Regions from separate parts of the Homo sapiens genome. Here all the other regions are linked to region 4. The links come from fine-mapping of genetic effects on gene expression. A gene starts in region 4. Each other region holds a variant in brackets. All regions are shown on one strand. Distances are between the middles of the regions. Region 1 overlaps VOPP1 (VOPP1 WW domain binding protein). Region 2 overlaps VOPP1 (VOPP1 WW domain binding protein). Region 3 has its middle 12 kb from the start of LANCL2. Region 4 holds the start of VOPP1 (VOPP1 WW domain binding protein). Region 5 overlaps LANCL2 (LanC like glutathione S-transferase 2). Region 6 has its middle 130 kb from the start of VOPP1-DT.

Evidence for each region. PIP is the estimated chance that this variant, and not a neighbour inherited with it, causes the effect.
Region 1: its variant is fine-mapped to the expression of VOPP1 in whole blood (INTERVAL, PIP above 0.99).
Region 2: its variant is fine-mapped to the expression of VOPP1 in tibial artery (GTEx, PIP above 0.99). The same link has a PIP of 0.9 or more in fibroblasts, spleen, visceral fat and whole blood.
Region 3: its variant is fine-mapped to the expression of VOPP1 in whole blood (INTERVAL, PIP above 0.99).
Region 5: its variant is fine-mapped to the expression of VOPP1 in whole blood (TOPMed, PIP 0.98).
Region 6: its variant is fine-mapped to the expression of VOPP1 in whole blood (TOPMed, PIP above 0.99).

The regions. Positions count from the first base shown.
Region 1 is chr7:55,528,239-55,533,322 of GRCh38, reverse strand. All of the region lies in intron 1 of VOPP1 (VOPP1 WW domain binding protein), which reads left to right. Among named protein-coding and RNA genes, the nearest start is that of VOPP1, 42 kb to the left of the region's middle. RefSeq lists enhancers at 797-856, 2,923-2,972. The variant T/AT (reference allele first, on the strand shown) is at 1,973.
Region 2 is chr7:55,469,747-55,474,822 of GRCh38, reverse strand. It overlaps VOPP1 (VOPP1 WW domain binding protein), which reads left to right. Exons shown (of 5, transcript NM_030796.5): 5 at 1,778-4,210. The coding sequence ends at 1,968. Among named protein-coding and RNA genes, the nearest start is that of VOPP1, 100 kb to the left of the region's middle. RefSeq lists an enhancer at 1,184-1,850. The variant C/T (reference allele first, on the strand shown) is at 3,118.
Region 3 is chr7:55,351,138-55,356,226 of GRCh38, reverse strand. No RefSeq gene overlaps it. Among named protein-coding and RNA genes, the nearest start is that of LANCL2, 12 kb to the left of the region's middle. The variant T/C (reference allele first, on the strand shown) is at 2,203.
Region 4 is chr7:55,569,794-55,574,793 of GRCh38, reverse strand. It overlaps VOPP1 (VOPP1 WW domain binding protein), which reads left to right and starts at 2,292. Exons shown (of 5, transcript NM_030796.5): 1 at 2,292-2,523. The coding sequence starts at 2,470. VOPP1-DT (VOPP1 divergent transcript) reads right to left here and starts at 2,028. Exons shown (of 17, transcript NR_187585.1): 1 at 1,477-2,028. RefSeq lists enhancers at 360-499, 830-909, 3,239-3,298 and a silencer at 2,059-3,038.
Region 5 is chr7:55,433,215-55,438,287 of GRCh38, reverse strand. LANCL2 (LanC like glutathione S-transferase 2) reads right to left here. Exons shown (of 9, transcript NM_018697.4): 9 at 4,551-5,073. It also overlaps a transcript of VOPP1 not described here. Among named protein-coding and RNA genes, the nearest start is that of LANCL2, 70 kb to the right of the region's middle. RefSeq lists enhancers at 4,825-4,904, 4,935-4,984. The variant G/A (reference allele first, on the strand shown) is at 2,656.
Region 6 is chr7:55,696,911-55,701,999 of GRCh38, reverse strand. It overlaps the pseudogene FKBP9P1. Among named protein-coding and RNA genes, the nearest start is that of VOPP1-DT, 130 kb to the right of the region's middle. The variant C/T (reference allele first, on the strand shown) is at 2,686.

The sequences.
Region 1 (5,084 bases), 42 kb after region 4:
CTGCTGTCCTTGGGCACTGCCTTTCAAGAGCACCACACTGCCCCTTGCATGCACCCACAGACAACACTGAGTGACCGGCCTCCATCCTCACTGGTCTGACCTGGAGGCAGCTGACTGAACCAGCTTTTAGGAGGCACTCATGTGAGTTTGTGTTAAACAGAAATGATTGAGTTGATTGGGTTCAGGAGAGAGACAGAACTGGCATCAAAATCACCTTCCTGGCACATATGTTCTCAGTCCTCCTGGTTTTAGCTTAGGCCTCCACACTGCCAGAGACTCCCTGAAGATTTTCTGATACACAGATGCTGCTTTGGGGCAGCACGTGGAACTGACTCTCTTTCTCCCCAAATTTGCTGTAACAGCTTAGTCCCTTAACATTTATAACCAATCAATTCATGACAAGAAATAGAAAGTCTTCTAAGCACAAGAAATTGCTTTTTGACTCCAGGTTAAATATTACCAGATTTAATGAAAATGCATATTACTAGAATTGAGGGGGTGTGAAATTTGGTAGTAGTGAAAAGGAATGAGAGGAGTACACGTGGCAGTGCTTCCCAGTACCTTCCTGGGAAGAGAATGCTGACAGGGTGTGCCAGAAGCCATGAAAACTTCCATGGAAAGGGGAGGAGCCTCCCTCAGATTGCTTTGAGCTGTATTTTTCCACACCAGGGTATCATTTCCAAGCTGGTGGTTGTAACTAGTGTAGTTTCTAAACTTCTGTTTTTTGTTTGTTTGTTTTTCTGGTTCATTTTGGATCACAGGTTCCATATTCTCACTCTCCATAGAGACACAAAAGTACGTTGTAGAGAATGTTAACTGCATCTTTAGGTTGAGCTTTACTTGACCATGATTCTCAAGAATAAACCGACACAGCACACAATGTAACGACTTAGCAGGAGGCTCTTAGAATAGTGGGCATGCGCCAGGTGGTTCGCATACACTGTTTCATGTAAACCTCAAGGCAAGACAGAAATACCTCTCTCCAGTCTGTAGACAAAGAACCAAAGCTTAGAGACCTTCGGTGACCTGACCATGGTTGGGTCACTGTTCAGGCACAGAAGCAGGCATGCGGCAGGTGCTGTGTGTGTTTATTCTAGTAAGTCACATTGTCTTTAAATGTGGGTGGCACCATCATTTATTCAGCCTTTAGTCAGACTTTAGTCACATCTCAGCTTTTCAATTTCTTGTGCTCTTTACAGTTAGAATCTAGACTTACAGAAATATATGTCATCAGAGAATCCAACACACTTTTCTTCTAAAATAGAAGTCAAATAGGTAGGGTAGTACACAACCCAAATGCAAAAATCCTTATGCATTTTTTGGCATTTTGCCCTTGAAGCTGCTCCACTTATTAATCTTTCTGGGCATTTCTGTCTGCAAAAGGTAAGAAGTTGATATTTTCTCTTAAGTGTGGTGGTTGAGTTTTGGATCTGCTGGCCAAGATTTAGGCCCAACTGGAGGAGAGTAGTCTTTTGGTACATATCTCAGTTATTTCATTTTGGGGGCATAGTAGTTGGAAACAACAAGCCTGTTACTCTTCTCAGACATGTATGAGATCATCAAAGCCGGGTGCCCAAATCATAGACTAGGAGGTGGCAGAGCTGATCTGTTGACTTTTTTTTCATAATGTTACTCTTGCACTCTGCAATTACATCAAAAAAAGATGACTTTTTCTGGGCGCGATGGCTCATGCCTGTAATCCTAGCACTTTGGGAGGCCGAGGTGGGCGGATCCCCTGAGGTCAGGGGTTTGAGACCAGCCTGGCCAACAGGGTGCAACCCCATCTCTACTAAAAATACAAAAAAATTAGTTGGGTGTGGTGGCGCGTGCCTGTAATCCCAGCTACTTGGGAGGCTGGGGCAAGAGAATCGCTTGAACCCAGGAGGCAGAGGTTGCAGTGAGCCAAGATCGCACCACTGCACTCCAGCATGGGCGACACAGCGAGACTCCCTCTCAAAAAAAAAAAAAAAAA[T/AT]TCTGGATTAGGCCTTTAAGGAGAGCATTCAAAGGTTTGGTCCTGTTCATTGCTTTTGTTGGAACTGAGCTGATAACAAAGGTTTATCATATTCATTTATTGCCAGCAGATAACAGTAGCACTGATATTTCTATCTGTTATCGCTGCTTTCAGGCTATTCTAATGAAGTCTCCCACTCATGAGTTTTTTGAATGAATGATGTTTTGTGGCATTTGGAAAATTTGTCACATGAACCCTTTTGGCTGCAGGCCTTATATTCATTTTATATAGTTCTGTGCCTAAAATGGCACCTCTAAGTATTTTTGGCATCTAAAAAGTGATTTCTGAGAGTGAAAGGATGCTTCATGGTTTGCACCCTGGTGGGCTTTGGGCTCCTTGACTTTGCTCCTTTCCTTTCTCTTGTGGTTTGTTCCTGGTGGGCTGGCCATGCTGATTGCAGAGACAGTTTCCTTAGCAAAGCTGCTGGACACACTTGTGTTTGATTTCTGCTCCTGGAGATGCAGTAATTGACAGTGTTGAGAGGTGAGGAATGCTGAAAGGTAGAATTCCTAATAACTCATAAAAGGTTATTTTGGGGGCATGGAGATCGGGTCTTTCATGTGGATTCAGTCATTTTAGTTTTCTTCTATACAGCAAAATAATGCCTACAATAAATCTCATTCCTGTTCCATGCACACGATGTGACAGACATTCCAAAGGGTGGGTCGTGGATTATGATGACACAGAAAACTTCAGCTTGTAGACATTGCCACAGAAAGCACACAGACTTTGGAAACCAACAGACCTGAAGTCAAATGCCGACTTTCAGCTTGCTCCTGTGTCACCTTTGCAAGTCAATTCACCTCTTCGAGACCTTAGTTTGCTCTTTTGTAAACCACCTAACTCTCAGGGTTGTTACAATGTTAAGTGAGATTTCACATGAAAAGCACCTAGTGGATCACAGGCATTCCATGTATGGCAGCTACTGTTTTTTGCCTTCTGATTGAGCTGGAATGAAAAGAGTCTTACATCATTGGTCATTAGGGAAATTCCAATTAAAATCACGATGAGATACCAGTACAGTACTAGATGGCTAATATCAAAAAACAGATAATAAGTGTTAGTGATGATGTGGAGAGACTGGAGCCCTCTTACATTGTTGATGGGAATGTAAAGTAGTGCAGCTGCCTTGGAAAATAGTTTGACAGTCTCTCAACAAGTTAGGTAAGGAGTTACTGTGTGACCTGGAAGTTCCACTCCAGGTCTTGGAGTGGAATGTACGTACCCATTCCACTTTTCTTAGTATGTACCCAAGAAATTAAGATATCTGTCCATGCAAGGACCTGTGTGCAAATGGATATGGCAGCATTATTGATAACAGCCAAAATGCAGTATCAACCCAGATGTCCATAGGCTGGTGAATGGATAAACAAAATGTGGTGTCTTCATAGAATGGAATATTGTTCAACACTAGAAAGGAATGAATTGCTGATATATGCAGCAACATACAATCCAGACGTAAGAGACTGTAAGTTGTATGATTTTCTTTAATTGAACCTTATAGCAAAGGCAAGACTATGGATAAAGATAGAAAGCAGATCAGTATTGCTTGGGGCGCTGGGGTAGGAGTTGGAATTGACTGCAGAACAACATGAGGGAACTCTCTGAAGTGAAGGAAAGGTTCTGAAGCTGGATTGGGGTGTTGGAGGCACAGCTGTATACATTTCCTAAAACTCATCAAACTATATCTTGAAAATGGGTGATTTTATAGTGTATAAACTAAACCTAAGTAAATTGAGCTAGAACTTGGATCACCTGATCCTTCAAGTATCATGAATTGTGATTTATATTGATAATTATGTTTTAAAAGATAGCATAGTTTTCAGAACGCTTTTGTTCAGCAGGCATGAGTAGGAGCTCCTGGGTGCACATGTGTGTTGGGTCTTGCAGCGAATCCAGTCTTTTGCACTCATTGAGGACTCTTTTTTTTTTTTTTTTTTTTTTTTTGAGACGGAATCTTGCTCTGTCACCCAGGATGGAGTGCAGTGGCGCCATCTCAGCTCACTGTAACCTCCGCCTCCCAGGTTCAAGCGATTCTCCTGCCTCAGCCTCCCAAGTAGCTGAGACTACAGGCGAGCGCCACCACGCCCATTTTTAGTAGAGGTGGGTTTTCACTGTGTTAGCCAGGATGGTCTCCATCTCCTGACCTTGTGATCCGCCAGCCTTGGCCTCCCAAAGTGCTGGGATTACAGGCATGAGCCACTGTGCCCGGCCCATTGAGGACTCTTATGTGTCCCTTGTCTCTTGCCACAACAGCCTCTATCATCAGAATTGAAGGCTTCAGTAGGGAGATATTTTAAAAAGAAATCACACCATCCAAATATAACACTGTGAATTTAGGCTTATGCTGTTACATTCTTTCTCCTATGAATATGTTTATTTTTACATTGTTGAAATTAAATATATATAATGTGTCTTAAATTAACTATGACATAAACATTTTCCATGATAAACTTTCTATGAATACAGCTTTAATTGCTGACTCTGTATTTGTTTGAGTACACCCTTTCTAGCCTTGTATATTATTTCACAAACTTTATTATTTTTATTTCATTCCTAGCTGGAGAATGTTCTTTCTTGTTAACAGTTATATTTTCTTATTTTAAATATTTTTCTTTTTTTTTTTTGAGACAGAGCTTGCTCTGTTGCCCAGGCCGGAGTGCAGTAGTGCGATCTCAGCTCACTGCAACCTCCGCCTCCCGGGTTCAAGTGATTTTTCCTGCCTCAGCCTCCCGAGTAGCTGGGATTACAGGCATGCGCCACCACGCCCAGCTAATTTTTGTATTTTTAGTACAGATGGGGTTTTACCATGTTGACCAGGCTGGTTTAAATATCTTTTCATATCCAGTTTTCACTTCTTTTTTGGGTACTAAGTGGTCTGCATTTTAAAGTAAAATTGAATAGAGATTTAAAAATAAAATGTACAGGTTCCATACAGGAAACTTGGAGACTAACAAAATGTATAGTGGAAAACAATCATCTCTAGTACCAACTGAAACATAATTAGTTGTCAGTATTTCGGTACATGGCTTTCCATATTATTTTCTGTTTCCTATAATGTATAACAAAAAAT
Region 2 (5,076 bases), 100 kb after region 4:
TGCTCCTCTCCTGGCCTCAGTGCTGCTCCTTCCTGCAGCCTTCTCCTGGACATGCCCATGTTTCCACCACCACCTTCCCACAGGAGGCTCCAGCTCCAGAGCTGCCTCCGCCCTCTCCAGTCCAGCAGGGACTTTTTCATCTGCCCCGCCCTTGTCCTGGTGCTGCTGTAGCAGTAGTGTGACCTTGGTAAGGCGCTAATTCTTGCAGAGCCCCTGTTCTCCTGTATTGCCCTGCCTGTTGGGGGGCCCTTATTGTGAGCAGAACCTAGGGCCTTTTCTTCTCAGCCCTTGTCTCCCACGCTGTGCGCTCCCCATCGAGTCAATCCCAGGCCAGTCATTGCCGACAGCCCTCAGTGCCTCATTCTCTCTTCTCCATTTTTTCTCTAATATTCAGAAGCCTTCATAATGTCTTGCTTAGACTGTTGCAATGCCCTCTTTTTAAAAATCCTTGGTTTTTTAATTGTATAACATATAGCAGGATCCAGATCTAAATAAAACATAATCTCTGCCCTTGCGAAACTCATGGTAATGGCAGTAAGTCGACTTCTAAATAGAACACACCCAAGGCAGCGGGTGAGATGCATCAGAGCAGCGCAGGTGGCATCTGTGGGACCACACGGCATCTCACTCAGGTGGTGTCTGTGGGACGGCACAGATGCAGGGCGAGGCAGCCTCTCACACAGGGTGGCATCTGTGCTGAGTGCCCTCCTGGCAGTTGAGAGCGCTCAGTGAGAGACAGTGCAGGCCTGGCCTGTGCTTCTGTTCTACATGCTCTCCTTCCGCACATGCGCAGATTCCCATGGTCTGACTTATGTGGGCTTTGGGACATCTTGTGTACCTTGATGGGCATGTTTCTAGAGTCAGAACTATATCACACTGTGTCAGGGGGAGAATTGCAAAAAAAGAAAAAAAACCCTACACAATATTCACACAGGGGCAGCTTCTTTGACACTTGAGTGTCTCCCTGAGCTAAAGGAAGCCTCACTTCAAAAACACCTGAGTCCTGTCACAAAATCAGCTATACCCAGGGAACACCCAGCACTTTCACGGTTTTGTCTGATTCTTTATTTACATATGCATAATTCTATAGTGTTAATCTGCATGATCACAGTAAGCACACTGAAAACAGCACCTCAGAGTGAGGGCTAGATTTGGGGTCGGGTGTCCAGCCTGTACCCTCCTGTCACCTTCTGTGGTGCCCCCGTGCCCTGCTCCTCAGCTTGTCACTAGGGAGTCAGCCTGCGGCTCCGCTCCTGACCCATGGAGCGTCAATCAGCTGCAGCCTGGCTATGTGTGCCCAGGTGCACGGCCTCCCTGCCTGTGAGTAACTCCTGCCCTGAGGGCACACTAGCCCGGCAGGGAGAATGGAGACCTTACTTCAGAAATGGTCACCAGCCAATGGCGTGCCCAGAGGGGTTGTGGAGCTCCTGCGATAATGCCAGGCTGAGTCGCGAAGCCTGGGTGGTCTTTGCAGCTCTTCCGATAGTTCACCGCAGACAGCCTCACCTTACTGTGGCCCAGTTTCCTCCACCCTAATGTGTGAACTGGTAACGTGGAATGTAGTCCAGTAGAATCAAAGCCCCGAGAGGGCAGGGACCTGCCTATTGTGTTGCTTGTCACCACAGCCCAGGTGCCCCCTCACCGGGCATGTTGGGTCCTTCATACACTGTCGCTGAGTGAATGACGGGGCGTGGTCTGCTGGCCCTGCAGCCTGCACATACTTGCGGTGTGATGGGGCTTTCCCTTCTGTGCTCACCTATGTTTGTCTGTCTTTCAGGAGCCCAGCAGCCGGGGCCGCCCTATTACACCGACCCAGGAGGACCGGGGATGAACCCTGTCGGGAATTCCATGGCAATGGCTTTCCAGGTCCCACCCAACTCACCCCAGGGGAGTGTGGCCTGCCCGCCCCCTCCAGCCTACTGCAACACGCCTCCGCCCCCGTACGAACAGGTAGTGAAGGCCAAGTAGTGGGGTGCCCACGTGCAAGAGGAGAGACAGGAGAGGGCCTTTCCCTGGCCTTTCTGTCTTCGTTGATGTTCACTTCCAGGAACGGTCTCGTGGGCTGCTAAGGGCAGTTCCTCTGATATCCTCACAGCAAGCACAGCTCTCTTTCAGGCTTTCCATGGAGTACAATATATGAACTCACACTTTGTCTCCTCTGTTGCTTCTGTTTCTGACGCAGTCTGTGCTCTCACATGGTAGTGTGGTGACAGTCCCCGAGGGCTGACGTCCTTACGGTGGCGTGACCAGATCTACAGGAGAGAGACTGAGAGGAAGAAGGCAGTGCTGGAGGTGCAGGTGGCATGTAGAGGGGCCAGGCCGAGCATCCCAGGCAAGCATCCTTCTGCCCGGGTATTAATAGGAAGCCCCATGCCGGGCGGCTCAGCCGATGAAGCAGCAGCCGACTGAGCTGAGCCCAGCAGGTCATCTGCTCCAGCCTGTCCTCTCGTCAGCCTTCCTCTTCCAGAAGCTGTTGGAGAGACATTCAGGAGAGAGCAAGCCCCTTGTCATGTTTCTGTCTCTGTTCATATCCTAAAGATAGACTTCTCCTGCACCGCCAGGGAAGGGTAGCACGTGCAGCTCTCACCGCAGGATGGGGCCTAGAATCAGGCTTGCCTTGGAGGCCTGACAGTGATCTGACATCCACTAAGCAAATTTATTTAAATTCATGGGAAATCACTTCCTGCCCCAAACTGAGACATTGCATTTTGTGAGCTCTTGGTCTGATTTGGAGAAAGGACTGTTACCCATTTTTTTGGTGTGTTTATGGAAGTGCATGTAGAGCGTCCTGCCCTTTGAAATCAGACTGGGTGTGTGTCTTCCCTGGACATCACTGCCTCTCCAGGGCATTCTCAGGCCCGGGGGTCTCCTTCCCTCAGGCAGCTCCAGTGGTGGGTTCTGAAGGGTGCTTTCAAAACGGGGCACATCTGGCTGGGAAGTCACATGGACTCTTCCAGGGAGAGAGACCAGCTGAGGCGTCTCTCTCTGAGGTTGTGTTGGGTCTAAGCGGGTGTGTGCTGGGCTCCAAGGAGGAGGAGCTTGCTGGGAAAAGACAGGAGAAGTACTGACTCAACTGCACTGACCATGTTGTCATAATTAGAATAAAGAAGAAGTGGT[C/T]GGAAATGCACATTCCTGGATAGGAATCACAGCTCACCCCAGGATCTCACAGGTAGTCTCCTGAGTAGTTGACGGCTAGCGGGGAGCTAGTTCCGCCGCATAGTTATAGTGTTGATGTGTGAACGCTGACCTGTCCTGTGTGCTAAGAGCTATGCAGCTTAGCTGAGGCGCCTAGATTACTAGATGTGCTGTATCACGGGGAATGAGGTGGGGGTGCTTATTTTTTAATGAACTAATCAGAGCCTCTTGAGAAATTGTTACTCATTGAACTGGAGCATCAAGACATCTCATGGAAGTGGATACGGAGTGATTTGGTGTCCATGCTTTTCACTCTGAGGACATTTAATCGGAGAACCTCCTGGGGAATTTTGTGGGAGACACTTGGGAACAAAACAGACACCCTGGGAATGCAGTTGCAAGCACAGATGCTGCCACCAGTGTCTCTGACCACCCTGGTGTGACTGCTGACTGCCAGCGTGGTACCTCCCATGCTGCAGGCCTCCATCTAAATGAGACAACAAAGCACAATGTTCACTGTTTACAACCAAGACAACTGCGTGGGTCCAAACACTCCTCTTCCTCCAGGTCATTTGTTTTGCATTTTTAATGTCTTTATTTTTTGTAATGAAAAAGCACACTAAGCTGCCCCTGGAATCGGGTGCAGCTGAATAGGCACCCAAAAGTCCGTGACTAAATTTCGTTTGTCTTTTTGATAGCAAATTATGTTAAGAGACAGTGATGGCTAGGGCTCAACAATTTTGTATTCCCATGTTTGTGTGAGACAGAGTTTGTTTTCCCTTGAACTTGGTTAGAATTGTGCTACTGTGAACGCTGATCCTGCATATGGAAGTCCCACTTCGGTGACATTTCCTGGCCATTCTTGTTTCCATTGTGTGGATGGTGGGTTGTGCCCACTTCCTGGAGTGAGACAGCTCCTGGTGTGTAGAATTCCCGGAGCGTCCGTGGTTCAGAGTAAACTTGAAGCAGATCTGTGCATGCTTTTCCTCTGCAACAATTGGCTCGTTTCTCTTTTTTGTTCTCTTTTGATAGGATCCTGTTTCCTATGTGTGCAAAATAAAAATAAATTTGGGCATGTGCTTTGATTGTTTTGTTGGGGGAGTGGGAAAGAGGGTGGAGATGAAGTTTCTAATGAGGAAGGGTGTACAGCAGATCCTTGGTTCAGTGGGGTGAGGTGGGTGGAGGATGCACCTGGTCTCAGGGGAACCAGAAACTAGATGTTATTTGAGAATGTAAGATACAAGCTATGGAGACAATTGTCCCCAGTGGGTAGGAAGACAGAAGCATCGCTGAAGTAATGTACTGTTGATACTGTAAGTTAACCTTGAGCTAGGGCTGTTTTTCACAGGTCGGGGAGCCTTCATCTTAAAACACAGCTCTGCTTGGTCAGAAATAACACTTCTCTCACAGATGCTGCTGAAGGGTGTAGCTGCTACAGTTAAACTGCATTTTAATTATTTATTTTTTATTTTATTTTGTGTTTTAGAGATGGGGTCTCACTGCGTTTCCCAGGCTGGTCTCAAACCATTGGCCTCAAGCAATTCTCCTACCCCAGCCTCTCAAGATGTATTTTAGATGTATCACTAATTGACATAATGTTTGCAAAGAAGCATTTTCTATTTTGCTTCCTTTTTGTTTTTTTAGAGACAGGGTCTTGTTCTGTCACCCAGCCTGGCATGCAGTGGTTCAATCATAGCTCACTGCAGCCTCAAACCTCTAGGCTCAAGCGATCCTCCCACTTCCCAAAGCCGTGGGATTACAGGCATGAGCCACAGTGCTTGGTTTATTTTTGCCTTCTTAAAGCATGGGTCCTAGAGCATGGTCCCTCCCCTAAAAGTCTGTAGAGCATTTGGGGATCACAACTGTGTCCATCCCTGGGAGACGGGCAGTGCACACAAGTATATTGAACAGTCTGAGAAGCATCTTAATGCTGTTTAATCC
Region 3 (5,089 bases), 220 kb after region 4:
ACCCTGTCTCTACTAACAATACAAAAATTAGCTGGGCGCCGTGGTAGGTGCCTGTAATCCCAGCTACTTGGGAGGCTGAGGCAGGAGAATCACTTTAACCCAGGAGGTGGAGGTTGCGATGAGCCAAGATCGCGCCACTGCACTCCAGCCTGGGCAACAGAGCAAGACTCCATCTTAAATAAATAAATAAACAAATAAATAAATATATATATATATAAAATAATGGCATATAGCTCAATATACACCTCCTGTAAATTGCATTATTGTTAGCATATACCTAACACCTACCTGTTATAAACATCACAATGCACTGTTATAATCTTTAAACATGTCTTTTTTTTTTTTTTTTAAGATGGAGTTTCCCTCTTGTTGCCCAGGCTGGAGTGCAATGGAGCGATCTTGGCTCACTGCAACCTCCGCCTCCTGGGTTCAAGGAATTCTCTTGCCTCAGTCTCCCGAGTAGCTGGGATTACAGGCATGCACTATCATGCCCAGCTAATTTTTGTATTTTTAGTAGAGACAGGGTTTCTCAATATTGGTCAGGCTGGTCTCAAACTCCCGACCTCAGGTGATCCACCTGCTTTGGCCTCCCAAAGTGCTGAGATTACAGGCATGCTGGGATTACCTCATTCAGCCTAAACATGTCTTCTAAAGAAATTAATAAAATAAAAAAGAATTCCAAACCTGGGTGTCTCCTTGACAGAGATCCTGTCTTTGGCCAAACTCTAGATAGGCTCCTCTGAGTTCTTTTTGGACTAAGACCCGTCCTTAGGCCTTGTCCTCAAGAGCCCAGTTGTAGCAAGAATCTCAAGTCAGTTTACTGTCACCTTCAATAGCTGATCAAATTCCTCATTCTCCACCAACTTCCCGGTGACCTCTGATCACCCTGGCCTGCCTTCAGTAGGAGTCCTGTTAGACCTCTGTAACCAGAACCCCCTTGCCCCTGATGTTTCTTCTTAATACTTTTCCATCCACTGACCTCCACCCTGCTCCTTGGCTATGTAAACCAAAAGGTATCAGAGACAAGGCTCAATCAATTTAAAAGTTTATTCTGCCAAGTTTAAGGATATGCCTGTGACACAGCCTCAGGAGGTCCTGACAGTATGTGCCAGGGTGGTTTGGCTAACACTTGGTTTGATACATTTTAGGGAGACATAAGACATCAGTCAATACATGGAAGATGTACACTGGTTCTATCTGGAAAGGCAGGACAACTCAAAGTAGAGAAGTGTGTTGCTTCTAGGTTACAGGTGGATTCAAAGAAGATTTCCTGATTGGCAATTGGTTGAAACAGTTTATCTAAAGACTTGGAGTGTCTGGGTTAAGAGAAGGGATGTGGAGACCACGGTTCTTATTATGCAGATGAAGGATTCTGGTAGCAGGCTTCAGAGAATAGCTTATAAATGTTTCTTATCAGACTAAAAAAGCCGCCAGACTCTGTTAATTCTCTCCTGGATCAGGACCAAGACCTGGAAATGGAAGGGGATTCCCTACAGAATGTAGATTTTTTCCCTACAAGAGATAGCTTTGCAGGGCCATTTCAAGATATGTCGAAGAAATACATTTTAGGGTAAAATACTCTGATTTCTTTCAGGGCCTGCTGTCGGTCAGGTGATGCTATACTAGAGTCAGGCTGGAATTTGGTATCTTATTGCTACAAAAAGTATTAAGATCTCTGTTTTTATGTTAATGCTGGTCAGTTGTGCCTGAATTCCAAAGGGAGGAAGGTAATCAGGCACATCAAACCCCCACTTCCCATCATGGCCTGAACTACATTTTCAGGTTAACTTTGGAATGCCCTTGGCTAAGAAGAGGGGTTCATTCAGATGGTTGGGGGGCTTAGAATTTTAATTTTTAGTTCACAGCTGTAAATTCCCACTTGTCTTTGCTGTATTCAGACTTGAGCCCAGTTGTATTCTGAGGCTCCTTTCCCCTATTGCAATAGTTCCTGAATAAAATCTTTACTGCTGTAACAACTGTCCAACTCTAGTTTTTCTTTAACAACCTGCAGTGGGAAGTAGATGAAATATCTATTCTTTTAGTTTTCATTTGTTACTTTTTTGCTGGCCCCACGGGGATCTTCCCCGTGTTTATGTAGTGAGGACTAAGCTCTGATTTTTTATCTTGCCCAACTTCCTACCTAAGGGGTCTAGGGAGTCATGCCCTACAAACCATAAATTCTCATCAGACGGGTTTTGACCC[T/C]ATATATTGTAACTTACTTTTTAATCTGACTCTGGCATAACATTATGAGACAAGAAAAAAACATTTAACCCCAAAATATATTTCCCTGCCATACCTTAAAATTGCCCTGCAATGTCTCTTGTGGGAAAAATCCACATCCTATAGAGAATCCTCTTTCCCCTTTGTTTTCCTTCCTTTCTTTCCAGATCCAGGAGATAATCAACTAAGAGCCAGGCTCCCTTTTAGGTCTAATAAGAAACATTTTACAACCTGCAGTCTCTCTGAAATCCACTATCTGAGAGATTTCTCTGTGCTGCAGAACTTGGTCTCCACAATCCTGTATCTTTTTTTTTTTTTTAGACGGAGTGTCACTCTGTCACCCAGGCTGAGGTACAGTGGCGCAATCTCGGCTCACTGCAACCTCTGCCTCCCGGGTTCAAGCAATTCTGCTTCAGCCTCCTGAGTAGCTGGGATTACAAGCATGTGTCACCATGCCCGGCTAATTTTTTTTTTTTTTTTTTTGAGACAGAGTCTTGCTCTGTCACCCAGGCTGGAGCGCAGTGGCGCAATCTCAGCTCACTCAAACTCCACCTCCCGGGTTCAAGCGATTCTCCTGCCTTAGCCTCCCGAGTAGCTGGGATTACAGGTGTACGCCACCACGTCTGGCTAATTGTTGTATTTTTAGTAGAGACGGGGTTTCACCAGCCAGGCTGGTCTCAAACTCCTGACCTCAGGTGATCTTCCCTCCTCGGCCTCCCAAAGTGCTGGGATTACAGGCATGAGCCACTGCACCCAGCCAATTTTTGTATTTTTAGTAGAGACAGAGTATCACCATGTTGGCCAGGCTGGTCTCAAATTCCTGGCCTCAAGTGATCTGCCTGCCTCGGTCTCCCAAAGCACTGGGATTATGGGCATGAACCACTGTGCCTGGCCCACAATTTTTTTTTTTTTTTTTTGAGACGGAGTCTTGCTTTGTCACCCAGACTGGAGTGCAGTGGCGCAATCTAAGTTCACTGCAAGCTCCGCCTCCTGGGTTCACACCATTCTCCTGCCTCAGCCTCCTGAATAGCTGGGACTACAGATGCCCGCCACCACGCCCGGCTAATTTTTTGTATTTTCAGTAGAGATGGGGTTTCACCGTGTTAGCCAGGATGGTCTTGATCTCCTGACCTCGTGATCTGCCTGCCTCTGCCTCCCAAAGTGCTGGGATTACAGGCGTGAGTCACCGTGCCTGGCCAGAACCAAACCAATGTATTTCTTAAATGTATTTGATTGATGTCTCATGCCTCCCTAAAACTATGTAAAACCAAGCTGTACCGCGACCACCTTGGGCACACGATGTCAGGACCTCCTGAGGGCTGTGTCACGGGCCATGGTCACTCATATTTGGCTCAGAATAAATCTCTTCAAATATTTTACACAGTTTGACTCTTTTCGTTGACTATAGTTTATCAAGTCAGCCCAGAATTTAGGCGGAGCTTATAATCAGATGTAAGGGTTTATTTCCTCTGTGGTTTTCTCCTTTCCAGGATTTCTTCATAACTTTCCAGCTGTTCTGCCAGTCTAAATTTTGTCATCTGACACATCAAGCCAGTAAGACTGAGGTTTCCAGCTGCACTGAGCTCCGTGTGAACTGGGGAGGACCTGGAGGCCAAATGCTGCATATGGCAAATCTTACACACTGTGGTTCCTGATTCTCATGGCCTGACTCCACTCTAGTTACTGCCTGCTTTTGGTCATGTTCCAGTGCCTGTAATCAACCTAAAATAATAATAATAATAAAAAGGTCAGACTCTAGTTTAAAGCAAGTTTATTCAAGTGCAAAGATTGAGGACAGGCCACCCAGGAAGCCCAGATTTCAAAGAACGGAAGTCAGTGCTCCAGAGTGTAGAAGTTTGGGATCGTTTACATGGACAAAGCTTAGGGCGCTTTAACAGAATTTCAGTGTCTTTCTATGGAAGACTTAATGTATAGTTAAAATACAATGATATGATTAGTCCAGATGGTACGTTTCTTTCAGGGAAAGGTATATTTAACATTCCACCCTGAAGATGTAACTGTCATGGGGTCTTGGGTGCCATTGGTCTGGGTTAGGAACTGGACAATAAAGACAGTTAATCTATAACAAAGATCAGTGATTGGAAGGGGGAATATCTGGTCTCTGGTCTCTCCTAGGCATTTACAGGAAAAGAGCAATGAGGAAGAGGGTTAAGCTATAATCTAAGAAGCGAAATTGCAAACATGCTACTGTCTCCAGAGCTTAACTTCCTTCCTTGGCAAAATAAATTTAGAGGGTCCTGAAATTTTATTTTATACTACACATTTTTGTCTTTTTACCTATTATGTTCAAATTTTATCATGTTATCTAGCAATAAATCATGAATGTTTTTCTGTCATTAAATACTCTTCTGTAACATAATTTTATTGGCTTCATATGCCATTGTATGATCTACGAGAATTTATTTTATCTATTATTAGACATATAAGTGTTTGTTTGTTTTAGTAAATAATGAAAAACAAGAAGATCTCAATAGCTACCACGTGGCTGCCAACTGCCCGTGTGGAGCAACACTGCCCTTCTTGGCTCTGGGCAGCTGTTCACACTGGACTGTGCAGGAGGCATCCCTGGGAGCACAGCTGAGGATGTGTGTGGTGCTCCCTGTGCTGCACTGTGCTAGGCCATGGCTAGCAGCCCCTGGGACCCTACAAGGGAAAAGGAGGACATGAAGTGCTTGTGTGACCAGAAAAATGTCCCAATCCAGACCCCAAGAGAGGGTTCTTGGATCTCTGCAAGAAAGAATTCCAGGCGAGTCTATAGAGTAATGGGAAAGCAAGCTTATTAAGAAAGTAAAAGAATAAAATAATGGCTACTTCATAGGCAGAGCAGCCCTGAGGGCTTTTGATTGGC
Region 4 (5,000 bases):
ACAGCAGCCACTCTGCCTTTTATGCCACTGCTTTGTCTATTTTACTCAGGGCTGTATCCGAAATGTCCAGAATAGTGCCTGGCCCAAAACAGATGCAGATAAATATTTATTGAATAAATGAAATACATGTTCATCATTCATGTAGACTCCACAGTTTTGCAGGGAAGCTACAGGTCAAGCCCAGTCTCTCTCTTATTTGTTTCCTTTGGCAACACACATGCTCCAGGCTCTGGGTCCTTACTCCTCAGGGGCAGCTGAGCAGACCAGGACATGTCCAGTCCTGCCCCAAACAACTCATCAAGAACTTTCTTCTAACCCCAAGTCCAACTTTAACAGTTGTTCTAGTGAATGCAGCTTTATCTTGTAACTTTTTCAGTGGTATCTGATGCCCTTATAATTTGTGCTCAAGGAAACAGCCTGGCTGGTTAGCCTACACCCCATCCTCCAACCATGCCAAGCAACCACCACATCATTCAGGACCAAACAGAGAGCACACAGGAGAGGTATCAGACTGAGGTGAAAGCAGAGTCACAGTTCTAATTTTATTCTTGGAAAAAAACTTGCACAAATTACAGGAAGTCGAGCTCAGCAAAACAATCTTCCAGGCAGAGAGAGATGCAGAAGGGAGGTTATGTCAGACACTAGTAGGTTGCTCACAATGCAACAGAACCACAATTTGCACACGAATACATCGTGGACACAAGTCAAAGTTCCATTTTAACCCATTAATGATGGAAACAGTGGGATGACAAAGGTGCTTCAAAGGAGAATGCAGGCAAGTGACCTACACACACAGTCAAAAGCGGGGAGAAAAGAGAAAGGAAACGCTGGGAATGAAGTGGCTCAATCAGATAGGAAGCTGGTTATGATTCTCACCTTAAGCAGGGGTCATTTGTCTTATACACACACACACACACACACACACACACGTTTTAATGGAGACAGGTTCTTGCTGTGTTGCCCAGGTTGGGGTTGGTGAACTCCTGGGCTCAAGCAATTCTCACACCTCAGCTTCCCAGACTGCTGGGATGATAGGCATGAGCCACCCTGCCTGGCCCATTTGCATTTTTACAGGACGAGATCACTTCTATCCCCACTGGAAAAACATTTGTCTTGCTAACACACAATAAGCTTTCAGCTTAGTTTTCTACAAGTTAACTTTTCCATTAAAAAGAGTTGTAAAATGTCCTCATTGTAAATAGTAAAACTACTAGAGTTCAATGGCGTTTGGCAGGCTTGTCAGATAGGTGCCTTAGCATGACTGAAGGCCATAGGCATTGTTTCTGTCTTACTTGTAAGTTCTGGCTCTGACAGGTATAGTCAGGTGGTGCATGCTCTATATTAATCAAATTAGGCTTTGAAAGCTGGGAAAGAGTTGGGGACTTGCCTCGGGTGACATCTGTTCGTGTGACCCCCTCCTTCCACCTCCTGTACTGCGCAGCTCATGTCCTTTATGACCCTCTGTGATGCACCCACCTCCTGGTCTCCGCACTCAGCATTCTGCATCAGGTGGTTTAAGCGACTCTCCCTCCCTCTAGGCTACGGGAGCAGTTTTCTTGTCCTCCTCTCAGCCTCCAACTCAGGATCTGGTACATCTTACAAGTTTAATAGTGTTTGTTGAATAACCTCATGAAGAAGGTGGGATCTGAGCTGTGTTGTGAAAAAATAGTGTCTGTGAGGACATGGAGGTGGGGTCAGCGGAGGCGAGGACAGCGCGAGCTCCGCACAGTTTTCTGCTGCGGGAGGGTGGCCTGCAAGGCGGGGCCGGTTGCGGTCAAGTTCAAGTAGGGTCAGAGCAGGAGAACACTGGCATAAAAAATAGCCACATCCAAGGAAGCAGTGAGGTGTGGGGACCATCTATTTCGGTGGGCCTTCCCACCCCCAGGCCGGCCTTCCCATCACGCGTGGGTGTGGGGGCACTGCCCCCGCTGCGCGCAGGAACAGCGGGGAGAGCCAGGAGCGGAGCGGCTTCGGGATGCCAGACTGAGCAGTGGGTTCGTCTGCGGCCACCTCTCAGGGAACAAGCTTCCCCCCGCGGAGACTCTGCTTCTTTTAAAAGCCTTCCTGGGTTTAGTCTAGGGCGACAGGACGACCTCCCTTGGGAAGGGAGAGCCTGCCAGTCCCCCTCCCATTCGCCAGGCGGTGCAGCCCCTCCTCCCGCCCGGGGCGCGCGCACCTCAGCGTCGCGGGCCTAGCGCCCAGCAGCCGCGCCCCAGGCCGGGCCTCGGGTTCCGGGAGCCCGCAGGCGCGCGCCCGGCCGGGCGTGTCGGGAGCGCGCGGCGGCCGGGGGCGGAGCGCAGCCAGGGCTGCGCGGCGCGCCCCGGCTCCCGCCCGCTCCCAGCCGGGCCCCCCAGCGGTCGGCGGGACGGCTCCCGGCTGCAGTCTGCCCGCCCGCCCCGCGCGGGGGCCGAGTCGCGAAGCGCGCCTGCGACCCGGCGTCCGGGCGCGCTGGAGAGGACGCGAGGAGCCATGAGGCGCCAGCCTGCGAAGGTGGCGGCGCTGCTGCTCGGGCTGCTCTTGGAGGTAGGGGCCGGGGACCGGGTGCTGCCGGAGGCGCGGCGCCCACCATGCTGGCGGCTGGGGGCGCGCAGTTCCGAGGCGCCCCAGAGGACCTTGCCTGGGAGCGCAGACGGTGGAGCGACGGGGAGCCACAGCCCTGCGCGCCTCCCGGAGCTGGGAGGTGCGGGACCCTGGTGACGGGGAGGCTCCCGCCCCGGTCCGCGCCTTCCGTCGTTCCTTCGGTTTTCGCACCCCGCCCCCACCCTGCGGGTGAGCGCGTTTCCCGCGCCGACCGCCTCCGTTAGCTCGGGGTGACCTTTGTGCACCGTCCGCCCCCTCTCCCCGCCGCAGAGGGCCGAGGATCGGATGGACCCGGGGTTGGGCGGGGGTGGTCCTCGGGCGCGGCGCAGGCGCGGAGAGCCCGGGGCGCCGGGCAGTTTGGGGTTAGGAAAGGATGGGTGCCGAGCCGGGGTGAGGGGAGCGGGCGGAGGGGACTGTGGGGAAGTGTCGCGGGAGTGCCGGGAGTTGTGGAGGTGAGCAGCGGGAGGAGGCGTTCCCGCGTGTGAAAATGAAGTGCAGCCTTTAGGTGCGGGGAGGAAATTCTGCGGAGAGCCTGGCTGGGTGGGGGTGCGGAGCCGAAGCCGGCGGGGAACTTGTTGAGCGGCTTCCGGGTGCGAGCGCCCGTGACCGCATCCCTGGCGGGGACCGCGGCTGCTCCTGGCTGTGAAATTGCATCCTCGGATGGGGCCACATACTTCTCACTAAAGCAGGTTCCTTAAAATGCGAACTAGAGGAATTCTGGGGTGTCCAGTCTGAATCAGGGCTTGTTCAACTTTCTCCTTAGTTTCATTATTCTGAAGGAAATTTGCGTTAAATTAATGAAGTCAAAAGAAATAGGTAATGAATCCCATGCCTCTGTTTTAGGAAGTTGTGAAACTATCTTCCTTAATAGTTAGTGATTGGTGCTGGAAATTACTAGTTTGTCTTCGCCCTTTATTAAAAAGTAATTATTACAAAATGTTGGAGGAAAAGTGTTTCCTGAAAGGAAGGCTGGTGGACAAATTTCTCCTTGCTCCAGGCTCTGCCATAGCCGAGACTTCCTGTTTCTGTTCGGAAATATCCCCGTAGCTTGGTATTTAATGTTTTTGTGGAGTGCCTCTGCTTGCATTCTTTCCATTTATTCAGAATTTTAGAACCTTAGGAATCACATTCTCTGAGTGACTCACCATAGAGAACAAAGAAGTGAATCAGAGACCAGTAATCGCATGAAAACAGATGTGCTTGTACCTTAATGTGTGTACCTATACTTGCAATCTTTATTTTTTATTTTTATTTATTTATTTCTTTAGTTTTGAGATGGAGTCTCGTTCTGTGGCCCAGGCTTGAGTGCTGTGGCGCGATCTTGGCTCACTGCAATCTCCGCCTCCTGGGTTCAAGCTATTCTCCTGCTTCAGCCTCCCCAGTAGCGGGGACTACAGGCGCCCACCACTATGCCCGGCTAATTTTTGCATTTTTAGTAGAGTCGGGGTTTCGTCATGTTGGTCAGGCTGGTCTCGAACTCCTGACCTCAGGTGATCCGCCCGCCTCGGCCTCCCAAAGTGCTAGGATTACAAGGTGAGCCACCGCGCCCGGCCCTGCAATCTTTTTTAATCGGCACTTGATGAAATTATTTAGCGTTTCTTTCATTCTAGTTTGTGCCACCCATGTCTCCCAAGCCTTCTGTCTGAGTGGTTCTGTGCCCTATATGTAGCCTAGACGGCCTCAGTGACTCCATTCTTTCCAAAATAGCTGTTTCGTTGCATAGGAATGTATCCTCTTAATAGGAGTTCAGATCATGTCTGCAAAGTTGAAACGACCTTAAAGGCAGAAGTGTGATGTAAAACTGAAACCTAAATGCCTAAGATGATACTTTCACAGTCAAATATTAGATGATTGTTTCAGAGGGGACAGTGTGATGTCACCCACTTTGACATGATGATTATCCTAAGTACCACCACTTTGTGCTGGAGAGGCGTCTCTCTGAGGAGTTAAGGAGATTTCTTCATCATTTATCACATGAAATTTTATGTATGAGATTTATATTTGAGATTTTTTCATCTCTGGTGGGGTGCTCTGATGAATACCTGTGATGCTTCTGAAGTCCTGAATCACATACATGGATGTGCAGTCGTAGGTGTGGAGCATGTGCCATGGCAAATGGCTCTCTTCAGGTTGAGTGCATAAAAGCAACCCAGGGAGCTATTTGGTGGCTTCTGGCTTCTGACTGCCGGCTGCAACCTGGGAAATTTGTCTTTGTTCCTTTGTTCTGCCTGAGCTGGTTTCAGTGTATAAATTTGCCACGTGGTTGATCATAAACCACCTGAAATTAAGGGGTGGCCTTGTGGCAGTGGTGACTCTGTTCCCACCCCCAGCACCCTGGCCCTATCTAGCACCATCCAGAATCTCACATGCGCAGGGGTTTCTGTGTTAGTGAGAGGTCCTTGAGTAGGAAGGGCAATCCA
Region 5 (5,073 bases), 140 kb after region 4:
GAGTAAGCACTTACTCAGTTGGATACATTAACCAGTTGGATAAATTAACATCCTCGGAGAGATAAGACACCAAAACCAAGAAATACAAAGAAGGGCCAGGCGCAGTGGCTCACACCTGTAATCCCAGCACTTTGGGGGGCCGAGGCAGACGAATCACCTGAGTTCAAGATCAGCCTGGCCAACATAGTGAAACCCTGTCTCTACTAAAAATACAAAAAATTAGCCGGGTGAGGTTGGGGGCGCCTGTAATCTGTAATCCCAGCTACTTGGGAGGCTGAGGCATGAGAATCACTTGAACCTGGGAGGCAGAGGTTACAGTGAGCTGAGATCGTGCCACTGTACTCCAGCCTGGGCGACAAGATAGAAACTCCGTCTCCAAAAAAAAAAAAATACAAACAGGATACTATATAAAAGATACACTGATATAAAAAATAAATTCCAGAAAAGAAAAACGAAATGAAACATTCAATAGAAGGACTGGAAGATAAAGTTGAAATCTCTCAGAAAGTAAAGTAAAAAGACAAAGGGGTGTAAAACAGAAGAAAGAAAATCAGGGATTATATTAAGAGGCTTAACATCCAAATAACAGGTGTTCAAGAAAAAGAGACAAGGACAGAGGGTGGGTGGAGGCAGTAAAGAAATAACTCAAGAAAATTTCCTAGAATTGAAAGACATGAATTTACAGATTGGAAGGGCCCATTAAGAACCAGGACTAGGCCTATTATCAGATGAAAATCCTACAACTTGCAAAACAATCATACAAAGCAAGATCAAATACAAAGAAACAAGAATCCCAATGGCTATGAAATCCCCACAGGCAGCAATGGAAGGTTTAGGACAGCAGAGCAATGCCTTGAGATATCAGTAGGATAACCAGTCGAGAATCCTTTAAGCAGTCAAACTATGATTTCAGTGTCAGAGCAGATGAAAGACATCTTTCTGGCACACAAGGACTCAAAATAAGTTCCTCAGCTGCTGTGAGGGAGCAGGTACTGCAGATGCTCCCAGCCCTCCTTACAGCTACGAGGCGGCCTCCGTGGGGACTCCTCGGGAGCCAGGCCACCTCTGGCTTGCCAAGAGGATGTGTGTAGGTCACCCTCTCTTATCCTGGGGATCACACCTAGTTTCCAGCAACTGAGCACAGTGTTTGGTAACTTCCCTGCCACCTCCATTAGGAATGGTCTGAAAGGCTGGCCTTGTCAGTTCTTGGAACTTTAGGAATACTTATACACTTACAGATGAATGTGTGATTATGCTGCTCGGGACACGTTTTATTCTCCTAGGGCAATACTTTAAGAGTGGGGTAATATCTTTATCAACATGTGAGCAGCAGCGTATCTGCTGGATGATCCTATGAAAGCCACAAGTTTCTCTTGTACAGTAAGGAGGAGGGTGGAGGGGGCCACAGAACCAGGGAAAGCTCCCTGGGATGCCCAAGAAAACACCAAAGCAGCTGACACCCTGGTCTCTCTGAATTCCTGGATTTTGAATAAGCCTGAAACTGTGGTTTAGGACATCTTTGCTCCTGCAGCATCTTTTCCTCTTGAAGGATCCTGGGGCAGTTACCAATTCACATATGCATGCACACACACGCATGCACATGCACACACGCACACGCACGCACACACGCACACACACCCACGCACGCACACACACGCACACACACACACTCATGCACACACACTCATGCACAATTGTCTGAAAGCCCAGGGCTGCCAAGCAGAGGACTGACACGGGGTTGTGATGAGGCATGAGACTTTGAAGTAGGACAGATCTGCATTTCCCTCCACGATGCAGGCAGGTGAGTGCTTCCTCACATGAAAGCCAATCACCGGCACCTTCACCTGCCCCATCAGAGCACTTACACGGACTAGAGGCTTTTCCCATTTGTCATTTAAATCCTCCCACCTACCAAATAAGGTAGATATTACCATTGTCCTGATTTTATAGAGAAGAAATGGAGGCTCAAGAAATAACTTGACCAAGTTCCCACAGGGAACAGGTGAGCTCAGAGGTGAACACAAGCTCCCAGGCTCCAGAGTCTCTGCTCTTAACACACACCACCCTGGGTTGGCTGTAAAATGTAAACATGTATTTATTACTTTCTTTGTAGACCATATACTCCTTGACGACAGGGACTACCACCTTCACCTTCATGCCCACAAGGTGTCACACTGCAAGGCTGAGCTGACCCCCACTTTCCTTTGGTCCGCCTCCTGCTGTTATCTGGAAGAGGCGTACAACATCCTTCACCCAGAAGCTAGCTGTCCTCACCTCACTGCAGAGGAACACTCCGGGGTCCTTCTGAGGGAGGCCCTCTGAGTCTGAGCTCAGCTCAAGGCTTCTGCCGTGCTGCAGAGGTTCCTCAGGCCTGATGCGATGCTGACTGAGGACAGGAGCCAGGGTGGTTTTTCATCATTCCACTCACAGCACTCAGCACAATGCCTGGCACAGTGTGGATGCTCCGTAAGCATTTGCTGAGCAGAAGAACCGAGCTTCCCACCTCCAAACGGGAGAGGGAGCTGGGAACAGTCAGATTTGTGAAGCCGACTGATCTCAGGATAGCCCCAGGCATCTGAGAGCCCCTGCGCCTCAGCCTCTGGGGAGCTGCAGCCTGGGTAAAACAGGATCATAAAGGAGCCCTGCCTCTGACAG[G/A]AGACAATGGATGGAATAGCCTTCCAGAAGCGCACTGGCCGGCTCACTCGGGGCTGCGTACTGTGCTGCCTGGACCACCACTTCCTATGCCCACAGCTGTGTACCAGGAAGCAGAGAAGAGGCTGACAGGCACCAGGGACTTGGTCACGCTGGACTTTGACACTGATGTGGAAAAGTCAGGACCTGCTGGCAGCATCTTCTACCACAGGAGGGGTCTTCCTAAATGCGACGGCACCTCCTGATCCAATCCTGCTGCCATGTCCGCCTCCCACAGCACCCCCGGCTCCATGCTTTGAAGCCCGGCTGGCCCACACACACTTCTTTACCCCCCAGCCTGAAACTTCACCTTTTTCGGGTCACACACCGCTTTGAAGCGGTAATGAAAACTGGGAACCCTCTCTCCATGTCAGTAATCATATGCACACAGAATTCTGCATGCAACGTAGTGGGCTCAATGCCTCCTGAGGACCACCAATGGTCCCATCCACATTACACATCCAGTCTCTCACCAGACTATGAGGCTCATGAAAGGTAGAGCCATAGAAGTCGCGGCGCAGAGCCTGGGCGGGAGTGGAGATGGTTTGTAAAGACGTCTTAGGGAACCTGGACTTTAAACTTGGACCATTGTATTTGTAAATTTAGCAAATGAAGCAACAGATGTGAAAACTGCCTAAGCTAAAAAGCAGTTTCAATTCCGACAAATGGCTGTAGGGTCCCTCCCCACCTAGAAGGCTGTGGGGGAGCAGATATGACAGGGCCAGAGGAAGCAGCCCTATATGGTCCGTCCTGCTTTTCTGTTCACTAGCCATGTGCTCATGGTCATGTCGCAGGGCCTTCCTGGGTTTCCGTGGCTTTCCTTCTGCATCGAGCACCCAGGGGAAGAGGGAGTGGGTGCAACTTAGCACCATGAGCAGCACCTGAGTCTGACCCGACTGTCCCACACGCGGGCTGTGAGATGCTGGGCAAGTCTGGCACTGTCTCGTCTGTGAGAAAGTGTTAATTACAACAGTCCCCCTTCCCAGTGCTGCTGTGAAAACAAAGGGCCCATCACAAGGAGGGAGCTTGATAGATGTGGCTCTTCTGACCCAGGGTTCCAAAGGTCTTGTTGTTGGAATCAAAAAGAATGTACTTATAGATAGAAACCTGCAACTAGGGCTGAGCGCAGTGGCTCACGCCTGTAATACCAGCACTTTGGGAGGCTGAGGCGGGTGGATCTCCTGAGGTCAGGAGTTCGAGGCCAACCTGGCTGATACGGTGAAACCCCATCTCTACTAAAAATACAAAATTAGCCAAGCATGGTGGCTCGCGCCTATAATCCCAGGTACTCGGGAGGCTGAGGCAGGAGAATCGCTTGAACCTGGGAGGTGGAGGTTGCAGTGAGCCAAGATTGCGCCATTGCACTCCAGCCTGGGAAACAAGAGTGAAACTCAGTCTCAAAAAAAAAAAAAAAAAAGAAAGAAAAAGAAACCTGCAACTAGAACATCATAAGGCGAGCAACTGCCACTTTTTTTTTTTTGAGATGGAGTCTCCTTCTGTCACCAGGCTGGAGTGCAGTGTTGTGATCTCAGCTCAGTGCAACCTCCAACCTCCACCTCCCCAGTTCACGCGATTCTCCTGCCTCAGCCTCCCGAGTAGCTGGGACTACAGTGTCCGCCACCACGCCCAGCTAATTTTTATATTTTTAGTAGAGATGGGGTTGCACCATGTTGGCCAGTATGGTCTCATCATCCGCCCAACTCGGCCTCCCAAAGTGCTGGGATTACAGGCATGAACCACCATGCCCAGCCGCAACTGCCGCATTTTTAAGTGAAGAATCCAACCTTCGGAACAGTCGCCATTGCTCCTAACCAATGTCACTCTCAAACACGGAGAAATGAAAACGAATGACGATTCCATAGGTCATCACCACAGAACTGGCTTTTACTAACAAAACCAAAGAACCTCAAACACTTTTTGTGGACTTCAAATTCTTTCCTTCAGATTTTAAAATGACATTATGCATGTACATATTTTTAAAATTTAGACACATTTTAGAGAACACAATTGTGAATACAAATCTAAGAAATGAATGAGATGTACTGAAATCTGATTCAAACACTTATCTTAAACTGACTTCTGTCAATCCTCTGTCCTGTGAAGTAAGTCCCGTTTCTCCTTTGCCTGGAGGGACCGAGCTGGAATTACTGTCACATGTTACAGACATGAGGCAGGGGTTAATGCAGAACCACGGAACAGCACCTCTGATGACATCTAGTGGATAAGTAGGAAGGTGTCAACCCAGGTGGCTTTTAAAAAAATCTGTAAATAAAATCTCCTCCTTTATTCCACAGATTTTAATCTTTCCCTCAGTGTGTTAGAAAGACTAATAGTGTTTTTCAAACGTGTGTGGATGGACTCACCTGGGGAGACACCCGCATC
Region 6 (5,089 bases), 130 kb before region 4:
TGATTGGAATTGCTTTAAAATTTGTAAGTTAGTTTGGGCCAGCCGTGGTGGCTTAGGCCAGGCATGATGGCTTACACCTGTAATCCCAGCACTTTGGGAGGCCAAGGCAGGTGGATCACTTGAAGACAGGAGTTCAAGACCAGCCTGGCCAACATGGTGAAACCCCGTCTCTACCAAAAATACAAAAATTAGCTGAGTGTGGTGGTGCATGCCTGTAACCCCAACTACTTGGGAGGCTGAGGCAGGAGAATCGCTTGAACCCGGGAGACGGAGGTTGCAGTGAGCCAAGATCTTACCATTGCATTCCAGCCTCAGCGACAGAGTGAGACTGTGTCTCAAAAAAAAGAAAAGATAAAAGAACTTATAAGTTAGTTTAGGGGAGGACTGACGACTTTGCTTTTCTATTGGGGAACAGGATGGTTTTGCATTTACTTGTTTTTAACTTTTATTCAGCATTCACTACAATTCAAGCCCACCCCGCCATTCCGTCTCTCCTTCTGAGGCTCTTATATCCTGCCTCTCGGCTTGGCCCTTGCTGCCAGACCATTGCTCTTCCCTTAGGCAGATCCCACAGCCTTCGGTGTCTGCTATCTCCCCTCTGCCATGGAATCTTTGCAACTATTCCAGTGGGCAGCAATCCCCGCTGTGGGTACCTGCCATCTCTCTCACTACTTGGTGTCCCTTTGTCGGGAGCCCACCACGTAGGTATCCTTCTCTTCCCTGAATGTCTGGCAGTGGCTGCACATTGCTGGTGATCCCCAGGGTCCTGCAGGTGGGAACCTCGGGAGGGTGAGCCCTGCTCTGGCTGAAGCATGCTGGGAGCCGACACGGTCCTCCTCTTCCCTGCTGTGTTCCCCTCCAGGCCTTCCTGGCCAGTGCACCAGGAGGAGGCCTGGAGCTGCTCAGCGTGGGGTGCTGTTCTCAGTGGGTGGGAAGGGGGACTCACAGCCTCGTCTGGGAGTTTATGTGGACAATCTCCTGCTTCCTGGGTGAGGAGAGACATCTGTTGTGATTCTTTCTTTGTGCCCCATGACTTTGTGGTCTCTGAGGGGTATTGAGAAGGGAGAACCCCCACAGCTCTGCCTGTGTATCAGCCTGGCCCCGCTTGGCGGTCCCTCTTCTCCAGGGCATCATGCCCTGGCTTTGAGGTGAGGGAAGGGCAGGACCGATTGGCTCTTTCAGGACAGGCTTTCTGCCTCATCGGCACCAGGTGGTGTGGGGAAGGGGTGCAGGTCACGTGGTCCAGTTTGATAGTGGACTTGTGGCATATGAAGTTTTATTATTTTATTCTGGAATCATTATGCTGTGGGGAATTGATTCCTCTTTTTACCAAACTCATGGTAATAGACTCACTCGGCAGTTTACACACAGGCTGGATCTCTCCACTGAGTGGACTTGGGGCTCCTGCCAGGAGCACTTGGAAAACCCAAGTATTCACCAGGGTGGCGGGGTGAGCAGGGATGATAGTGGGGGCCTTTTGTCGGGCTGTGGTGGAGAGTGCGGAATTCATTACTCTCAGTGTGTATGCTGCTTTCCTGGCGATCGGAATCTTCATGTCAGGCTGGGTGCTATGGCTCAGGCCTGTAATTCCACACTTTCGGAGGCCAGCGCAGGCAGATCGCTTGAGCCCAGGAGTTCGAGACCAACCTGGGCAATGTGGTGAAACCCTGTCTCTACTAAAAATACAAAAATGAGCCAGGCATGGTATTGAATGCTGTAGCCCCAGCCACTTGAGGGGCTGAGGTGGAAGGATCACTTGAGCCCAGGAGGTTGAGGCTGCAGTGAGCTGAGACCAGACCACTTCACTCCAGCCTGGGAGACAGAGCAAGACCCTGTCTCAAAAAAAAAAAAAAATTAAAAAGTAATTAGAAAATAAAAACAGAATATTCATGTCCCACATATGCAGATATTTTCTCTTTAGATATTGGAGACATTATCCTTGTGACACATTCGTAGTTTCTGATAAGGGCTACGTTCGATTCTGTTTTTTGTTTTCAAGATAGGGTCTCACTCTGTCACCCACGCTGGAGTGCAGTCTTGTGATCTTGGCTCACTGCAACCTCAACCTCTCCGGCACAAGCAGTCCTCTGACTTCAGCCTCCTGAGTAGCTGGGACTATAGGTGTGTGCCACCACATCCAGCTAAGTTTTGTAATTTTGTAGTGACAGAGTTTTGCCATGTTGCCCAGGCTGGTTGAGAGCTTGATTGTTTTCATTAACTTGACGTGGTTATAGAGTGTACAGGCTGGGCACGGTGGCTCATGCCTGTCAACCCAGCACTTTGGGAGGCCGAGGCAGGAGGATCACGTGATCCAGGAGCTCAAGACCAGGCTGAGCAACATAGTGGGACCCCATCTCTACAAAAAAAAAAATTTATTACCTAGGTGTGGTAGCATGTGCTTGTAGTCTCAGCTACTTGGGAGGCTGAGGTGGGAGGATTGCTTGAGCCTGGGAGGTTGAGGCTGCAGTGAGCTGTCTATGATGGTGCCACTGCACACCAGCCTGGGTGACAGAGTGAGACCTTGCCTCAGAAAAAGAAAGTATAGCGTTCAATTTACATTAGCTCCATTTCTGTGTGGTGCTTCTCATAACCCACACTGCATTCATAACCTGACGAAACTGGAGGGCCACACGGCGTGTCTCTACAGGTGGCTGTTCACATGCTGTGTGGGGGTTCCTATTTACC[C/T]TTCCAGGGGAGCATGTTTCCTGGCTGTGTCATCAGATACTGTGGTTTACGCTGTTCCGGAGTCTGGAGGCCTCTGTGTGCCTTTGCATCTCTTTCCCAACTAATTTGCACAGCTGCTGTGGAGGCCCTCATGAATGACCTCTTTCTTTCCTTTCTTCTTTTCTAGCTACTCTCAGAACCGCACGTTTGACACGTACATTGGGCAGGGCTACGTGATTCCTGGGATGGATGAAGGTCTACTTGGTGTTTGCATTGGAGAGAAGCGAAGGATTGTGGTCCCCCCTCACCTGGGGTATGGAGAGGAAGGAAGAGGTGAGCATCAGCCTCACCTGCCTTCCTCACTAACTGTGGCTGCTTCCACATTGCTTGGAACAGGGCTTCTTTTTCTTTTTCTTCTTTCTTTTTGAGATAGGGTCTCCCTCTGTCGAACAGGCTGGAAAGTGTAGTGTGTGATCATCTTGTACTATGGCCTGAACTCTTGGCCTCAAGTGATCCTCTTGCCTCAGCCTTCGGAGTAGCTGGCACTACAGGCACGCACAACCGCACCCTGCACAGAGCTTCTTGAGAGCCAAAATATTGAAGCTAAAGTCCAGCTTAAGACTGGAATCCCCAAATAGGTTTAGTTTCTAGAGTTGTCCTGTTATTTCTCCTTGTTTCTCTGCCCATTTTCCTTTACCTTTTGAAAATGTTAAATCCTACACCAAAGTCGAAAGCACGTTACAGTGAATTCCACTTTGTGTTGCCAATTGTTAACATTTTGCTATATTTGATCTCTTTTTATATTTATTTATTTATTTTAGGCTGAGCCATTGAAAGTAAGTGCAAAAGCCCCTCTTTGGTTTTTGTTTTATGTATTATAGAATTCACCCATTTAAGTATACAATTTAGTGACTTTTAGAACATTTAGTGGGTTATGTAGCCATCACTATAATCCTGTTTTAGAACATTTTTGTCACCCTCATACCACACTTCCTTTTAAAAGTTACACAAATCATACATGTTGACTTAGGAAAAGAAAATACAGTTAAGCAAAGAAATCCTGCCACCCAGAAATAAATATTTTTTTTCCTTTTTTTCTTTTTTTTTTTTTTTTTTTGAGTCTCATTCTGTCACCCAGTCTGGAGTACAGTGGCACGATCTTGGCTCACTGCAACCTCTGCCTCCTGGGTTCAGGTGAGTCTCATGCCTTAGCCTCCCAAGTAGCTGGGACTACAGGCATGTGCCACCACGCCTGGCTAATTTTTTTTTAAATTTTCAGTGGAGACGGGGTTTCACTGTGTTGGCCAGGCTAGTTTCAAACTCCTGGCCTCAAGTGATCTGCCCACCTTGGCTTCCCAAAGTGCTGGGATTATAGATGTGAGCGCCATGCCATGCCAGAAATAAATATTGTTAATCTTAATCTGGTAGGCAGAATATTCAGCCCCTCCAAGTATCTATGTTCTAATCCCCAGAACCTGTGAGTATGTTACCTTACTTTATTTTGTTTTGAGACAAAGTCTTGTTCTGTTGCCCAGGCTGGAGTGCGGTGGTAAGATAAGCTCCTAACTCACTGCAGCCTCCAGCTTCTGTGTTAAAGTGATCCTCCTGCATCAGCCTCCTGAGTAGCTAGGACTACATGTGTGTGCTACCATGCACGGCTAATTCAAAAGCAATTTTTTTTTTTTTTTTGTAAAGACAGACATGGTCTTGCTATGTTTCCCAGGCCTGTCTGGAACTCCTGAGCTCAAGCAATCCTCCCACCTTGGCCTTCTGAAGTGCTGGGATGACAGGTGTGAGCCACCATGCCTAGCCTCCTGTTACCTTAATAAAAGGGACTTTACAGATTTGATAAAGGATCTTGAGATAGGAATAGTATCCTAGATTATCCAGGTGGCCTCAAAATACTTGCAACAGTCTTTGTAAAAGGGAGGCAGGCGGTCAGACCGGGGAAAAAGTGCTAAACTGCTGACTTAGAAGATACAGAAGGAGGACCCTGTCAGGGAATGAAGGTGGCCCCGAGAGGCTGGAAAAGATGGAAACACATTCTCCCCGGCAGCCTCCAAAAGGAACACATATCCCTAACAATACCTTGAATTTATGCTTCTGCCTTCCAGAATTAGGGGAATCCGTTTGCGTTGTTTTAAGCCAACAGGTTTGTGGTATTTTGCTGCAGCAACAGTAGGAAACAAATGCAGCCATGAAGTGAATGTCCTTCTGTACCTTTGAGTGTATGTATAGGTTTAAAAAAAAAATGCCCACCTACACTAATCAATACGGACAAACACGGGATTGTCTATGCGTATTACTTTGTGATTTCTCTCTTCATCCAATTTGTGGTGAACAACAGATACGTTGTGAACAACTTTCTATGCTATGTATTTTAATGGCTGCTCCCTCGCTTAGGAATAGTTGATGCAGTATTTAT